Regions from separate parts of the Homo sapiens genome. Here region 2 is linked to region 1. A link means that fine-mapping ties the variant in region 1 to the expression of a gene that starts in the linked region. Tissue or cell type: whole blood. Region 1 holds a variant in brackets; the other region holds the start of a gene. All regions are shown on one strand. Distances are from middle to middle.

Region 1 (5,367 bases):
CTTGGTTGACTCTGCAGGTCTCTGATGAGGGGGCAGCTGCTCCCTGGTGGGGCTCCTCTGGGGACAGGCAGCTTCCCAAGGGTGGGCGTGTTCTCTCCTCCAAATTCCCCTTCCTTCCATTTCCTTTCCCTTTCAGTTCCAATTCCTTCCATTTAGGAAAGAGGCCTGTGGAAATCCTGTACCTCCAGAGCTCCTGGGAGGAACCCGAGGGTATAAGAGAGAGCTGCATATGGAGACTGGGGAAGACGGCTCAGGTCCCCTGCTGTGGTCAGTCCAGCCCCGTGCTGGGGCCCTGGGTCTTGCAGGCACAATCGGGGCAGCCCAGTGGGTTGGGGTCCATGCCATGGCTGCAGATGGGGGGCCTTTCAGGGCTGGCAGCAGCAGGAAGGGAGGCCCCTTCAGACTGGTCCAGCCCTACTGGCACCTGGGCTTGGCTGGGGTCTGTGGACATGGCCAATTTGGAGGTGTCTCCGGATATGGGACCCTGGGTTTGCCCAACCTGGTGGGGGGTCTCGCCTGATGAGGCGGCAGCTGCTGCCTGGCGAGGCTCCTCGGAGGGCAGGCAGCCTGGGGCCAGCAAGAGCCCCTTCTCGTCCCAGCCTGGCTTGGTGCGGATGCCCACGGCCTTCAGGATGGCATCCATCTGCTTGGCATAGTCCAGGTGGCCGCTGACCTGCAGGAGACAGTGAGTGAGCACCACCGTGGGTGTGCAGAGCCCAGCCCTCCCCAGGGACCTCCGGCCAAACTTCTGGGCCTCAGCCTTGCCCTGAGCATCCACAGCCAACGAATCACCAAACCCATGACTCCATCCCTCAGTGGCTCTCAAATCCAGAGTGGGTGGGAAGGCTCTATGTTCAAAGCTGTTCTAGAATTTATTAAATAAAGATGAAGGATGTTTCTCTAAAAAATCTGGATCCTTTTGGGGCAGGAAGGAATCTCCTGATAAACAGAAAGGTGGAGTAGAAGCTCTCGTTCTTTGTCTGAAGCTTTTTTTTTTTTTTTTTTTTTTTTTTTTTTGAGACAGGCTCTTGCCCAGGCTGGAGTGCCGTGGCGCAATCTTGGCTCACTGCAACCTCCACCTCCCAGGTTCAAGTGATCTTCTTGCCTCAGCCTCCTGAGTAGCTGGGATTACAGGCGTGTGCCACCATGCCAGTAATTTTTTGTATCTTTAGTAGAGAAGGGGTTTCACCATATTGGCCAGGCTGGTCTCGAACTCCTGGCCTCAAGTGATCCACTGGCCTTAGCCTCCCAAAGTGTTGGGATTACAGGCGTGAGCCACTGTGCCCGGCAGCTTTTTTTTTTTTTTTTTTTTTTTTTAAGGGATGGGCTTTTTGTTAAAATAGCATGAGAAAAAAGAAAAATGAAAACAGAGAGAGAGAGAGATGGGTTCTCTCTCTCTCGTCCAGGCTGGAGTGCAGTGGTACAACCATAGCTCACTGCAGCCTTGACCTCTTGGGCTCTAGTGATTCTCCCACCTCAGCCTCCTGAGTAGCTGGGATTACACGTGCATGCTACCATGACTGGCTAATTTTTAAATGTTGTAGAGATGGGGTCTCCTATGTTGCCCAGGTCTTGAACTCTTGGCCTCAAGAAATCCTGCTGTCTCAGCCTCCCAAAGTGCTGGGATTACAGGCCTGAGGCACTGTGCCCAGCTGATGCCTGCAGCTCTAGGCTACTCCAGAAGGGCTCTGCTGTTCACTAGTTGTGACACCTTGGTCAAGCCCCTCTACCCCTCTACCCCTCTGGCTCTCAACTTCCTCCGCTGTAAAAAGGGGAACACAAGGGTAGTTTCACCAGAGGTTGGCTGTGAGGATTTTCCCTGGAAAAGTCCTCAAATTGGAAAGAAAGCTACAGCATAGACTGCAAGGTGCTGGCTACAACTCACTCTGCCGTTTATTCTTTAGTCACAAGGACTCACATTTATAGCTGGGCACACTCCCCAGGCTTCCTTGCAGCTAGGAATAGCACTGTGACTAGTTTTGGCCCATGAGTTGAAGCGGTAGTGTGATGTGGTGTTCCTTGGAATTCTCTTTAAGAGGAGGAGTGCTCTTCTTCCCTCATGTCCTCTTTCCTGCTGGCTGGAATTCAGACGAGATGGCCAGAGCTTGAGCAGCCATCTTGGGCCATGAGTCAGCCCACTAAGGAAGGCAGAACAAGCAGCAAGAGGGAAATTTGGTCCTTGAAGACTGTGGAGTGGCACATCAGCCCTAAATGGCCTATTCTGATTTCTTTTATGTGACAGAATCAACCCTAGTGTATTTAAGACAATTAGGCCAGGCACAGTGTCTCACCTCTATAATCCCAGCACTTTGGGAGGCCAAGGTGGGAAAATCACTTGAGCCCAGGAGTTTGAGACCAGCCTGGGCAACATGGGGAAACCCTGTCTCTACAAAAAAATACAAAAATTAGCTGGGCATGGTGGCGTGTGCCTGTAATTCCAGTGACTATGTAGGCTGGGGTAGGAGGATGGCTTGAGCCTGGGAGGCTGAGGCTGCAGTGAGCCCTGATTGTGCCGCTGCACTCCAGTTTGGGCGACAGAGCAAGACCCTGTCTCCAGAAAAAACAAACA[G/A]ACAAAAAACATTAGCAGGGCCTCTGTTATATGGGTCTGCATCTTAACTAAGACAAAGGCCAAGAACTCAGAAGTGGCCACCCCCTTCGTCAGAGTCATACGTTCATCCCATTTTTGTGTTGGGATATGTTGGTGAGCAACAAGTAGGGGTGTGATTGAAATGCCTGATGCCTAGATGTAATAATGGACAATGCCTGACACGTAGTAGGTCCTTAATACATTGCAGCAAATAAGCTTCTTGGATATACTCCTTTGCTAGGTGTCGGCTGCTCACTGTAGATGAAATTGAGCCACACGGAGGTAAAGTGACTTACCCAAGGTCACACAGCTAGAACTTGGCAGGGCTGGGATTTGAATCCAGGCCTGTTTCTTTTTTTTTTTTTTTTTTTTTGAGACAGAGTCTCGCTCTGTTGCCCAGGCTGGAGTGCAATGGTGCAGTCTTGGCTCACTTTAAGCTCTGCCTCCTAGGTTCATGCCATTCTCCTGTCTCAGCCTCCCGAGTAGCAGGGACTACAGGCATCTGCCACGGTGCCCGCTACCATGCCCGGCTAATTTTTTTTGTATTTTTAGTAGAGACAGGGTTTCACTGTGTTAGCCAGGATGGTCTTGATCTCCTGACCTCATGATCCACCCACCTCGGCCTCCCAAAGTGCTGGGATTACAGGCGTGAGCCACTGCGCCCGGCCATCCAGGCCTGTTTCTAAAGCCTGTTCTCTTCAGAGAAAATCAGCTGGGGAAGGAAGGAAGGTTAAAAATCATCCTCACTTTACAGAGAAGGGCAGCAAAGCCCAGAGAGGGGTGGCGGTTTGCTTAATGACACACAGCGCATGAACAGCACAGTCTGGTGCTGAGCCTGAGATGCTGCCTGCAGAAGCTGCTCAGCCTGGATCTGCCCCTGAGATGGAGTCTCACGTTATACCCAGCCAGTCGAGGGGGCCTGCTTTAGTGCCAAAGATGCGCATGAGACCGGACTTTCCTTTAAGGCTGAAGGGGAAGGCTTTCTTTTTAAAAAAAGGACAGGAAAAACACCAGGGAGGCTGTTGTTGGGAATCTCAGAAAACAGCACAAAGACACTGCTGGTAACATCTGCATTTCCATTTGAATTGCAAATCACACTGTATTAATCAAATGATTTTTCAAAAACACGAAAAGACAATTCCCTGTACAGTTTTGTTATTTTCTCACCACTAGAATCTGCCCACCTCTCGTTCCTTTCCTCACGAATGCTTTTAAACAGATTCCAGGGAAAATACACACACGTGTATTCACACATCTAAGTGGTTTTCAGGGCCCTGGGCTCAGGGTGGTTGTCAAGGCACAGCCAGTGCCCCTCTGCAGCAGGACACATATTTAGTGGCTGCAGGGCCTGAGAAGGAACCTAAGTTTGGACTCTCTGAAAAGCTGGGGTACCAGCCTTGGCTCTGTCTCTTACCAGTAACTGGGCCAGTCCTCACAATTTCCTGAACCACAGCTTCCCCATCTGTAAAATGAGAGTCATGACCTTGAATGATTGCTATAAGGAGTTCAAGGGCCTGGCACTTCATAGGAACTCAGAGAATGCTAGCTTTTGATATTATGTTCCTATATGATCCAAAACACTTTTTGTTTTTCTTAATTTTTTTTTTTTTTGAGACGGAGTCTTGCTCTGTTGCCCAGGCTGGAGTGCAATGGCATGATCTTGGATTACTGCAACCTCTGCCTTCCAGGTGCAAGCTATTTTCGTGCCTCAGCCTCCCAAGTAGCTGGGATTACAGATGTGCACCACCACACCTGGCTAATTTTTGTATTTTTAGTAGAGACAGTATTTCACCATGTTGGCCGGGCTGGTCTCGGACTCCCAACCTCAGGTGATCCGCCTTCCTTGGCCTCCCAAAGTGCTTGGGATTACAGGCGTGAGCCACTGCACCTGGCCTTTTAAATTTTAAATGTAGAGATGGGGACTTCTTATGTTCTCCAGGCTGGTCTCAAACTCCTGGGCTCAAGAGATCCTCCTGCTTCAGCGTCCTAAATTGCTGAGACTATAGGCATGAGCCACGATGCCCTGCCCCAAACACTTTTAAAGAGACATCATGCAATTTGAGTTAGTGATACCTACCTAAAGGAGTTGCTGGGAAGAAATAATACAAACCATGAAGCACAGTGCCTGGCACCCCAGGAGGTACTCTGTAAATATGAGTTCCCTTACCTTAGTTTCCTACGAGTGGGGGATGGAGAGTAGGGAGTTAGCTGGGCTGATCCATTTGGGAGCCCAAGATGGCTGCTCAAGCTCCAGCCATCACATCTGAATTCCAGCCAGCAGAAACTTCAGACCCACAGGGACAAGTGATAACTGCCTCTCTAAGGACAAACAAGAACTGCCTCCCTATACCTTTTTAATGTTGTAGATGGCTGGTGCCAGTGCTGGGTAGAAACAGGCCAGGAAGGAAGGGAGGTGTTGGTACCCACTGGCTGCAGCTGATACCAGATGGAAATTCCACTGAGAGCTGTCCTAGAACACACAGCTCTGGCCCTCCTCGACTACAAGTTGGTCTGGGTCTCAGGCAACCCTAGTCCCTGAGCCACCCCTCTGCAAAGACCCAGGGGAGCAGTTGCTGGGCAGAGCTCTGGTTTTACAGTTAGCTGGAGAGATGAGAGAAGAGGGGTGAGGCAGGTCGGGAAAGAGCCTCTTCTCAGCACCAGAAAGTTCTGGTGTAGCCGATACTGCGTGAAGATTCAGCCCCTGACCATCTCCCAGGCTGTCTTGATTGAATCTGCCAGCTGCCTGGATACACGCCGGATGTGACTGGCGTGCAGAAGCC
Region 2 (5,367 bases), 21 kb before region 1:
GTTACACTGAGCTATGATAGCATCACTGCCTCCAGCCTGGGCCACAGAACGAGACTCTTGTCTCTAAAAAAGAAAAAAAAAGTCTCAAGTTCAAGATAATAACAGTATGGCCACAAGGTGGCACCATAACCCTGGCCCAATCTTAAAATAAAATTTTAAATTTTAGCACAGAGCGCATTATAACAAACATCAGCGGATCCATCACCCAGAATGAACAAATGTTAAAGTTATTGCCAGGTTTTCTTTAGTTAGTTTGTTTGTTTGAGACACTGTCACCGAGGCTGAAGTTCAGTGGCTATTCACACGTGTGATCATAGCTCACTGCAGCCTTGAACACTTGGCCTCAAGCAATCCTCTCACCTCAGTCTCACAAGTAGCTGAAACTAGAGTCGTGCACCACCACGCTCAGCTAATCTTTAGGTCTTTTTTTTAAAATAAAAGATATCAAGTATTGTGGGAAAAGTGAAAGCAGAAAGACTAATATTCTATGCACTACCTACAGATTTTTACAAAGCAACATTTATCAGGCAAAATTTTTTACTCATCTCATTCACAGCTCCACTGCCTTGGTTTCATAGCAGCAGAGAATTTAAGAGGCTTTGCACAACTTCACAGAGCAAGTGGCAGACTCTGGATGATGAACCCAGGATGCTGGGCTCCAAAATCCTTCCACACAGCACCTCTCAGGGTTGCAGCTGTTCACGTCAGAAATCCCTGGGCTCAAGGAGTTAGCACAGAGCTGAATGCATTACGATTGTGCTGATGGGAACACTAAAGCCAAGAGCTAGGTTTTTTTTTTGTTTTTTTGTTTTTTTGTTTTTTTTTTTTTTAGATGGAGTTTCGCTGTTTTTGCCCAGGCTAGAGTGCAGTGGTGTGATCTCAGCTCACTGCAACCTCTGCCTTGTGGGTTCAAGTGATTCTCCTGCCTCAGCCTCCTGAGTAGCTGGGATTATGGGCGTGCATCACTACACCTGGCTAATTTTGTATTTTTAGTAGAGACGGGGTTTCATCATATTGACCAGGCTGGTCTCGAACTCCTGACCTCAGGTGATCTGCCCGCCTTGGCCTCCCAAAGTGTTGGGATTACAGGCGTGAGCCACTGTGCCCGGCCAGCTAGTGTTAACATAGTATCAAAGACACAGATTACATCAGTGTCATTTAATCCCCTCAGCTACTCTGTGAGGTGGGTGCCATATTGTTCTGCTAACTATTACAGAAGAGAAAGCTGTGACCCAAGGAGATGGAGCCACTGGCCCTGTAATCCCAGAGCTGGGATGGAGCGGGGATCCCAAGCCATGTGTTTCTGACTCTCTGCCCAGGCTTGCTGTACTACGTTCTGTTCCTTGGGGGCATGGCAGAAATCGTCACAGTGGTGCAGTGTGGTGGCAAGGAGGAAGGACAGGCCTCCTCTATCTGCTTAAAAGATGCTTCTGTGGGCAAGGCTGGGGCTCTGAGCACCAAATAGCAGCTTAGAGTTGGCGGGTGGGTGCTGCAGGCTCTGAGGTGCCTGAGGGGAGGTTTTTGACCATCTGTAATGGGCTCTCTTTGCCATGGGCATCGAGCAGATCTGGGTTTCAGGTCCACTTCACCACTTGCTGCTGGTGATCTGGGGCAAGGCCCTTGGCCTCTCTGAACCCCAGTTTAACGTCTACCTCTCAGCATTATTGTAGGGGTCGGAATAAATAACTGGAGGAGTAGGAACCGTACAACAAAGCCCCTGGGGACAGCGCAGGAGCCTTCGATTTGGAAAGTATTATTTTTCTGTTTCTGTGGAGAAAAAATGATCCCACCCCGTTCTCTTTATACTACATTTTCTTTTTCTCTTTCTCTTCTTTCTTTCTCTTTCTTTCCTTTCTCTCTTTCTTTCTTTCCTTTTTTTTTTTTTTTTTTTTTTTTTTTTTGACAGAGTCTTGCTCTGTCACCCAGGCTGGAGTGTGCAGTGGCACAATCTTGGCTCACTGGAACCTCTGCCTCCCAGGTTCAAGCAATTCTCCTGCCTCAGCCTCCCGAATAGCTGGGATTACAGGCTCCCGCCACCACGCCCAGCTAATTTTTGTATTTTTGATAGAGACGGGGTTTTACCATGTTGGTCAGGCTGGTCTCGAACTCCTGACCTCAGGTGATCTGCCCACCTCCGCCTCCCAAAGTGCTGGGATTACAGGCGTGAGCCACCTCGCTGGGCCCACTTTCTCTGTTGATTATGCTTATTGTTTATTGTCTGTTTCTTCCACTAGAATGTAAGCTCCATGGAGGTGCGGATCTTTGTTTTGGCCACTGTAGTGTCCTGATGGGTCAGAACAGTGCCTGACATCTAGTGGATGCGCCTTAAAAGATGCATTGAAGTATCTGTTCAATGAATGAATGAATAACAGTATTAACCTGCACAGCAGTGTTAGGCAGAGACTCTTCTCAGCCAGAGGGGAGACGTACAGAGGGAGGTCACACCCAGGGGAAACCACACCCCACGCCTCTGCCTGCAGCGACTCTTAACACACCTGGCCTGGGGATTCTCAAATCTGTTCACGCTCTGTTAGACTAGGAGCGCCAACAGCTCAGGGACTTCATCCTTAGTACCTGGCCCCTTTGGGGATCGGGATGGTTTCTGCGGGAAAGGCCCTGGGGAAGGTTAGCTTCTTGCTCAAACTAACGGTGAAGAATGCCCAGAATTACTAACCCATTTTACAGATATGGCAACTGAGGCCCAGAGGGGTGTCAGGCGATTTGTCCAATATTTCCCAACTCCTGGCTCCCCTGAAAGCCCGGTGACCCCGTTGTGAGTGGGCAGGCACCCATTAGAGAGCAGCCCCTGGATAAGGGCAGGTCACAGCCCCCTGCTCCCAGTTCCGCCTGCGCCGCCGCCACGTGTGGGTTGGGAGGGGCATCTGAGGGTGTGGGGGCTGCCACAGCCCGGGAGGTGACCCCTCGCAGCTGGGGCGCTCTGATCTTCGGCCCACAGGCCCGGGGTGCCGGGACCCCGCCCTCCTGCAGGGCCAGGGCTCGGCTCTCCCCGCCCACCGCGAGGCGGGGCGCACGCTCCGCGGCGCGGGGACCGCGCGCTCCAGGCTGCACCCGGCCTCTCCTCCGCGCGTGCGGGCCCCTCGCGGCGCCTCCCGGGCTCGGGAGACCCGGTCCCGCCGCCCGCCCGGCCCGCGGCCGCCTCTTCCTCTCGCAGCCCCGCGGCGCTTGCCGCAGTCGCAGGCGGCGGAGCAGCCAGAGCGCCCCAGGTACCAGTGCGGGCGGGAGACGGAGGCGACCCTGCTGCCGGGTGGGGAGGGGGCGCCGCGCGGCCGCTGCCCTCCTCTTCCCGCGGGGCCTGGCGGCCCCGGCGAACCCCCGCGCCGCACAGGCCGTGTGCGCCGGATCCCGGTGCCTCCGCGCCAGCTGAGACCTGCCTTTCCCAGGGGCGGCTTTGCTCCGGCCCCTAGGCCCCCGCCCTGGTACCCCACACGCCCACCGGCCGCGGGGAGCCTGCTCCGGCCCGAGAGCGCCCATTCACCCCCCTCACCCACCTCCCCGCGTTCCCACTTCCCCGCACTCTGACCCGGCCGGACGCCCCTCCCCTATCTTGCCGCCCGCCCCCTCCAGGGGGCTCTGCTCCCACCCCAGGGAGCCCATCCGACCTCTGCTTGACTTCCCGCCGCTTCCTTCAGGGGCCTCGGCTCATCGGGTGCCCCTCCCCAAACTTCCAACCCGTTTGCTCCAGGAGTTCCTGCCCCATCCCCGAGGGCGCCCAAATAGCCACACTGTGTCCTCCTGTAGTCGCTGCCCCCTGACCTAGCGCGACCCAGCGCCCCCGCCCATGTCCCCCCACTCACCTCCCCCGGGGGGCGTGGTGAGTCGCGGTCTGTTCTCACGGACGGTCCCCGTCCAGCCTGCGCTTCGCCGGGGCCCTCATCTGCTTTCCCGCCACCCTATCACTCCCTTGCCGTCCACCCTCGGTCCTCATGGTCCCAGAGCCGGGCCCAACCGCCAATAGCACCCCGGCCTGGGGGGCAGGGCCGCCGTCGGCCCCGGGGGGCAGCGGCTGGGTGGCGGCCGCGCTGTGCGTGGTCATCGCGCTGACGGCGGCGGCCAACTCGCTGCTGATCGCGCTCATCTGCACTCAGCCCGCGCTGCGCAACACGTCCAACTTCTTCCTGGTGTCGCTCTTCACGTCTGACCTGATGGTGGGGCTGGTGGTGATGCCGCCGGCCATGCTGAACGCGCTGTACGGGCGCTGGGTGCTGGCGCGCGGCCTCTGCCTGCTCTGGACCGCCTTCGACGTGATGTGCTGCAGCGCCTCCATCCTCAACCTCTGCCTCATCAGCCTGGACCGCTACCTGCTCATCCTCTCGCCGCTGCGCTACAAGCTGCGCATGACGCCCCTGCGTGCCCTGGCCCTAGTCCTGGGCGCCTGGAGCCTCGCCGCTCTCGCCTCCTTCCTGCCCCTGCTGCTGGGCTGGCACGAGCTGGGCCACGCACGGCCACCCGTCCCTGGCCAGTGCCGCCTGCTGGCCAGCCTGCCTTTTGTCCTTGTGGCGTCGGGCCTCACCTTCTTCCTGCCCTCGGGTGCCATATGCTTCACCTACTGCAGGATCCTGCTAGCTGCCCGCAAGCAGGCCGTGCAGGTGGCCTCCCTCACCACCGGCATGGCCAGTCAGGCCTCGGAGACGCTGCAGGTACCTGGGGTGCGCAGGGAGACCCGGGCTGTGGGATAGAGAGGAATGAGCAGCCCCTGGGGACCCCCTGGGCATCCCCACTTAGCACACATTTGCTCATGGCCCTGCGTGGCTGTTGTGAGCGCCCACCTTTCTTCTGAACTCCAGAGCCAATGCCTGACCCACCCACCACAGGATAGCTCCGTCAGGATTTGGGGGCAGGCTTCTCCCAGGTACCATGTACAACAGGGAATTTATGGTGGCCCAACTCTCCCCATCTTTGCCTCCCTGGTCTTCCCCATCATGGCAAATGGCACCATTGCGGCATCACATGCCAGGAACTTAGGAATACTTTTCTCCCTCACCCTCATGCCATTCATTAGCGAGACCTGTTGGCGCTGCTCTAAACAGGTGCCATCTCCCCTGCCACTTCCTACCGGGGAGGCTGTGTAGACTTCTCCTGGCTCCCCTGCTTCTGCCGCAGACCCAGTACTCTCCATCTTCTGCATAGAAGCTGGAGCACTTAAAAAAGAAGTGATCATGTCACTCCCCTGCTTCAGACTCTTCAGGCTTCCCACCGTGCTCCAGATAAAGAAAACCTGTCTCAGGATCTGGCCTCAGGATCCCACACTGCCATCCTCTCCAGTGTCACCTCCCCTCTCCCTCTCTCTTACTCTGCAACAGCCTTGTGGCCTTTCTCACGGTTCTAGAAGGCACTGGGCTTACTTCT

The links. PIP is the estimated chance that this variant, and not a neighbour inherited with it, causes the effect.
Region 2: HTR6 starts here. The variant in region 1 is fine-mapped to the expression of HTR6 in whole blood (INTERVAL, PIP above 0.99).

Annotation. Positions count from the first base shown.
Region 1 is chr1:19,682,772-19,688,138 of GRCh38, forward strand. It overlaps TMCO4 (transmembrane and coiled-coil domains 4), which reads right to left. Exons shown (of 16, transcript NM_181719.7): 16 at 1-673. The coding sequence ends at 269. Among named protein-coding and RNA genes, the nearest start is that of HTR6, 21 kb to the left of the region's middle. The variant G/A (reference allele first, on the strand shown) is at 2,570.
Region 2 is chr1:19,661,810-19,667,176 of GRCh38, forward strand. It overlaps HTR6 (5-hydroxytryptamine receptor 6), which reads left to right and starts at 3,066. Exons shown (of 3, transcript NM_000871.3): 1 at 3,066-4,658. The coding sequence starts at 3,945. RefSeq lists a silencer at 2,880-3,109 and enhancers at 2,888-3,860, 3,861-4,831.